Regions from separate parts of the Homo sapiens genome. Here region 1 is linked to region 2. Evidence: fine-mapped expression QTL. Tissue or cell type: aorta. Region 2 holds a variant in brackets; the other region holds the start of a gene. All regions are shown on one strand. Distances are from middle to middle.

What was found. PIP is the estimated chance that this variant, and not a neighbour inherited with it, causes the effect.
Region 1: it holds the start of MIPEP, and the variant in region 2 is fine-mapped to the expression of MIPEP in aorta (GTEx, PIP above 0.99). The same link has a PIP of 0.9 or more in cerebellum.

Annotation. Positions count from the first base shown.
Region 1 is chr13:23,887,957-23,890,721 of GRCh38, forward strand. It overlaps MIPEP (mitochondrial intermediate peptidase), which reads right to left and starts at 1,444. Exons shown (of 19, transcript NM_005932.4): 1 at 1,176-1,444. The coding sequence starts at 1,364. It overlaps PCOTH (prostate and testis expressed opposite C1QTNF9B and MIPEP), which reads left to right and starts at 912. Exons shown (of 4, transcript NR_172510.1): 1 at 912-1,055; 2 at 2,044-2,086. RefSeq lists enhancers at 1,224-1,724, 1,784-1,843.
Region 2 is chr13:23,854,891-23,857,655 of GRCh38, forward strand. The region is part of intron 10 of MIPEP (mitochondrial intermediate peptidase); the gene reads right to left. Among named protein-coding and RNA genes, the nearest start is that of PCOTH, 33 kb to the right of the region's middle. The variant G/A (reference allele first, on the strand shown) is at 1,685.

The DNA.
Region 1 (2,765 bases), 33 kb after region 2:
ACAACCTGCCCATATTGCTCTCGGGAATTCTAACTATCGGATTACCAGTGACCATAATGCTAAAAAACTGAATAAGGCTTTTTTTTTTTCAAGGCAAAAATCAATTCTAAAATTTGAAAATCTGCTATCAGTGCCGAATATCATGATACAAAAAGGGAAAAATAAAAGCTAAAATTAGTTATATCTCATCCACCCAAAATCAGGCTTCCCCTCACGTCTTTCTGCTCAGCGCCTACAAGTAGGTCTCTTCACACCAACTATGTTAATACCAACACTACATACCCTTAAGGAAGGTGGTGTAGCAAATTTCACACAAAATAATTTTTAAATAGACAAAACTGATAATGGAGATAAAACAAGAATCACACACTTTAGCTCAGTGCAACAATACCCTAGACTTGTCTTTATAAGGCAATACAGTATAACGAAATTTTAAAAGGCAAAAATAAAAGTAATCCTTAACCTAAAACGGACAAAATGTACAAACTCCAAGTAGAACAGGCATCAGGTAAGTCCTTTCCAACCTTGCCTTCCTCTCACCTTTCACTAGACAACGCAGGCTAGTGACTTCCTGGGGTAAGAAATCAAAGTGACCAATTCCATGGCACTATGGGAAGTGAGACTCGTCTCAACAGAGTTTTGTGTTTTAAAACAAGAAAGCCCAAAGCTTTGAAATAAATTAATTAATAGATGATGGAATTTCAGGTATTAATGAAATTACCATTACTCGACTGCAGGCAGCCGTGTCCTTGCAAAAAGACCATGTGATGCCGCCTGTGAACGCACAGGGATAGGCCTCTTAAGGCAGGACTGTAGCGCTGGAGCTAAAGGGCTTTAGCAGGGGTGCGCCTGAGTGTATGCAGAGGGCGGGTCCTGGCAGGACGAATTCACCGCCACTGCCAGAACGAACTATTCAGATTCACGTGGAGCAAGGGGCTCATGCAGAAGCAGTTCCCGGACCCGACACTCTGGGTAGGAGACCACTAAACCCGGCCCCTCAAAGCAGAGGTGACCTTGCCCTCATCGAGAGCGCACACAAGACGCCACTGTAAAAGGTGGGTTCGCTGCTCGCCTCCTCCCAGGCCCAAACAATCTCGCCCTGATTGTTGCTGGCCGCGCGGAGCAGGGGTCGGCTTAGCTCGGGGACTGAGGGGAGCTCCTCCTGCGCCGCTCACCCGGCGCTCGCCGAACAGGTCCAAGCGGCTGCCCTGGGGCTTGACATTGAAGGCGGCGCCCACGGGAGACCAGCTGGTGCTGACCCTTCGGGCCCGGATCCCGGCTTCGAGGCTTCCCCGGCCCGCCCGGCGGGGCGGCAGAGCTGCTGCTCTGGCTCCCAAGCCGCCCAGCCTTCCGACGCACAGCATTCTAGCACCAGAGCAGTCCCTTCCTCCAACGCAGATCCCTGCCCTGCTGCTTTCGCTGGGAGCGCGCGCTCCGCGTTTCCAAGGCAGCAGCCCACGCCGCCCCACGTGACGGCCCCGCTTCCGGGTCTGGGCGCGGCCTCAGGACGTGGGCACGTTGTCGTCCAGAGAGCAAGAGCGTCGCTCCCCCTCGCCTTCTCGGCCGCCCTCCCGGTTTACCGCCCCCTGTGTCCAGAGTAAGAAAAGGCTAGGGTTGCGCTTCCCTCCCAAGTTGACTAGGGGTGGGCGCGAGTAAAATCATGACATATTCGAATTCCAGTGGACATTAGATATTCTTTGAGAGACGGCAGGTACTTGAGTAAACAAGAAATGCCCACCATAGGCCTGAAGGAGAAGTTTCCCTTTTAACCTACTCTCTTGGTAAATTTATCCTGCACTTCTCTGTTTGGTGTCTCTGTCCGGTAACTTTTTACTCTTGCATAGCTCAGTTAAAAATTTTAGATGGGAAATAGTGAAAGAAGTCTAATGGGATTTTCCCTCCAGGGTTTCAGAATTGCCTGGGACCCGTGAACCCTTTTTTCCTTCCCCTTTCTCTCTTTTGGAATGGATTGTCTACCCTATGCCTGTCTCCCCCTCCAACCCCCGGTCTTTTAGAAGTGGATTAACTCGTCTCGCTTCACAGGATCACAGATGGAGAGACATTTTGCCACACGATGAATCACACAGTAAGTCTCCTCTGTAGCTTATTTAAATGATGTAGATGGTGAGAGGAGTTGATGCGGAAAGTGTTAAGACTTTTGGTAATGTTGACATGGTGCGAAAATGTATTTTGCACATGAGAAGGAAATCAATTTTGGGAACCAGAGGGCAGATTGGGTTGAACTGTGTCTCCCAAAATAGATGCTGAAGTCCTAACCCTCGGTGCCTGTACATGTGACCTTATTTGAAAATATGGAGTTTGCAATTATGATTAAGATGGGTCATACTAGATTAGGGAAGCTGTTCTTGTAAGAAGAGGAAAATTTGGCTGATACAGGAGGAGGACAGCCACCTGAAGATGGAGGCGGGGACTGGAGTGATGCTGCCACCAGCTGCCAGAAGCTGGAAGCAGCAAGGCTGCATCCTCCTGTATCCCCTTTGGAGGGAGGATGGCCCTGCTGCTACGGTGATCTCAAACTTCCAGCCTACAGAACTGTGAGAAAGTCCGTTTCTGTTGTTTAAAGACTCCCAGTTTGTGTACTTTATTAGGGCGATCCTAGAAAACAAGTAGAGATTCATGTCTGGCAAATAATGATCAAACAATGATTTGTTGGATAGAATGGTGATTAAAACCTAGGTTAGAAAATGAGCAAAATGGGAGGGAAAGCACCAGGACAAATAGCTAATGCATGCAGGGCTTAATAC
Region 2 (2,765 bases):
CAAAAAAAAAGAAAAAAAAACAATAAACAAACAAACAAACAAAAATAGCACCAAAATAAATGAAATACTGAAACTCATTACTCACAGAAAAGAAATAGTGTTTCCAAAGCATCAAAAACAAAATCCAAACACTGGAAGGATACATTAAACAACTTAAAAGTGGTGACTTCTGGGGCAGAGGTAGAGATGAGTATTCTCAATTAATACTTCTTAACATTGTTGATTTTTTGAGCCATGTGAATGTATTGCCTAATCAAAAATAAAATTTAATTTCAAATAAAATAATTTATTTTTGTATCTGAAAGACGTAATGTTACTCTTCCATGAAGAATCTTACAATAAAGCTTTAAAAAGGAAAAATGAGCTGCTCTTTAAGACTTGCTGACAGTCACTTATACTACTACGGTATTTTCCAGGATCAACCTTTGGCACTTTTAAAACATGTTAATTTCTCCTCCTGCTTCTAAACAGGTTCTTTTCTTTAGATGAACATTAAAAACTTGAAATAAATCTGAGGTATTTAACATAAAAGCAAAAGACTCCCTGAGGTTAACTTGAAAAAAAGGCTCGAATCAAGGAAAGCCCCTTCTATATTTCATTTTGTGTCAAGCCACACATTTAAGTCTTTACTTGAAAGGTGATGAATTTAACAAGGATTTAGAAATCTTCACTTTGTTCCACTCTTCTAACCCCAAACCCAACCTATGATATTTTTCCTTTCTTTTCTCATCCATTACCTGTGCGGCAGCCTCCTCTTGTCAATCAAGATTACTGAAGCCTCAAACCAAAACTCAGTAGCCTATTAAGCTACTTAAAATAGATTTTTAAAACCCGATTCTTACAACCCCTTCTGATGCATTTCTGCATCCCTTTTCCTGGTTCTTTTACTGAGTTAATAGTCAAATAAATAAATTAGTATTAAAACTTTAAAATAAGCTAAAGCCCCACATGGATATCTGGCAGACTACATTGTGTTCCCAGCATACCTGGTGATTTCAAGGACTTAGCAAGCAGGTGGAAGACTCCATCAACCAGTGAGCACTGCAAACATGTCATGCAAAAACATGGCATTCTCTTTCTAAAAAAACCTCATCACTGGATTGCTTTTCATGGTTACTGGTCTAGATACAAGTTTGAATAGGGGCTATGAATTAGTATGTATTTACTGAGGGTCCAGAATGTTTGTTCTTGCAGAGCTTTAAAATATGGTTGACAAGACACATTTAACATCCAGAACATCTTAGCAGGTCAACTGTGTAGCACACAGGCTGTTAAGCACAGCGGAGCCAGGAGCTACACAAGGCTAGTGCAGACTCAGCAGCTTCATGGACACCTGGCAAGATGTCACAGATGTGTAAGACAAACCAGGGAGGCAATGGGAACCCACTGCTCCCCTGACAGAGGTTCTGCCTTTGAGACAGAAAGGGGTTTGGCTGGGATAAACTGTGGAGGAAGAGCAGCGGTGGAAGAAAAATCAGAACAAATAAATGTGAGTAGAGATGTTTCTTTCTGTAAAACAAAAGTAGGTTGTGATCAGATCCTACAGTGCGCCCAGAGCCAGGCTTGTGGGCTGTTGGCAGCTATATTTATACCCACTGTTATTTAAATGCAAATTAAGGGGTGGGTTAATGCAAATTGGGGGTAGATTATTCAGAACTTTCTAGGAAGGGGGTGCTAACTTCCC[G/A]GTCATTGGCCTTGGCACTAGTAAACTGTCAAGGCGCTGGTGGGAGTGAATTATGCTAATGAGTAGTGAGGGCAGCCAGAAATCCCTTTCCTTGCCATCTGTTGGTCTGGGCTGGTTTCTTTACTTCATTCTGTTTGGACCAGATCCTGTTCTGGTCAGGAGGTTGTGACCAGAAAACAAGTCCTGCTGATCTCCTACCTCGGAACCACCATTTGGGCATGCTATATTTACAGAGTATAGTTAGTGAAAAAACTATCACTTATATTTAAGGCCAAGGCATTAATGAAAATAATCAGGTATCGGGGACATGATATGAAAGGAATACCTGATAAAAATGAGAGTAGCAAAAATTAGAATATTTATTAAATTAGAATATTTAATATTCTAAATATTGAGAATTAAAATTAGAATTCTAAAAATTAGAATATTTAATATCAAATATATTTAATTTACATTACTCTCCAATGTCAAAAATCAAATGCTTTACATAAACATGGAAAGTACAAATAAATTTTATTACTGATTTATGCTACATCTTTAACAGGTGAAACAACCAAGCCAAATCTTTCTTTGACAGAATTTTAAAAGAGACATTTTATTTTTTAATGCAACTATAGGGAGCAGGGTTTCAAGTTCTGCAACCAGAAAACAATTTTGTAAAACAAATATATTCTAAACCCTCGTTGTTTACCATAACCAAATTATTATAGACTTTGAATAACAGTTTATGTGTTTTCACTAAAAAAAAGACTGATGCTGAATTTGAGATACATTTTTAAAAAAATGGTAGCTAACCAACCTGGGCAACACAGCAAGAACCTATATCTCTACAAAAAAATTTAAAAATCAGCTGGGTATGGTGGTACACACCTGTAGTGCCAGCTACTTGGGAGGCTGAGGCAGGAGGGCTGCTGGAACCTAGGAGGTTGAGGCTACAGTGAGACATGATTACGCCACTGTACTTTGGCCTGGGCGACAAAGTGAGACCCTGTCTCTAAAAAGAGTTGTTTAATGAAAAATAAAAATAAAAAATAGTAACTGACCAAATATTCTTAACTAAAGGTTAGGACACAATTATGCC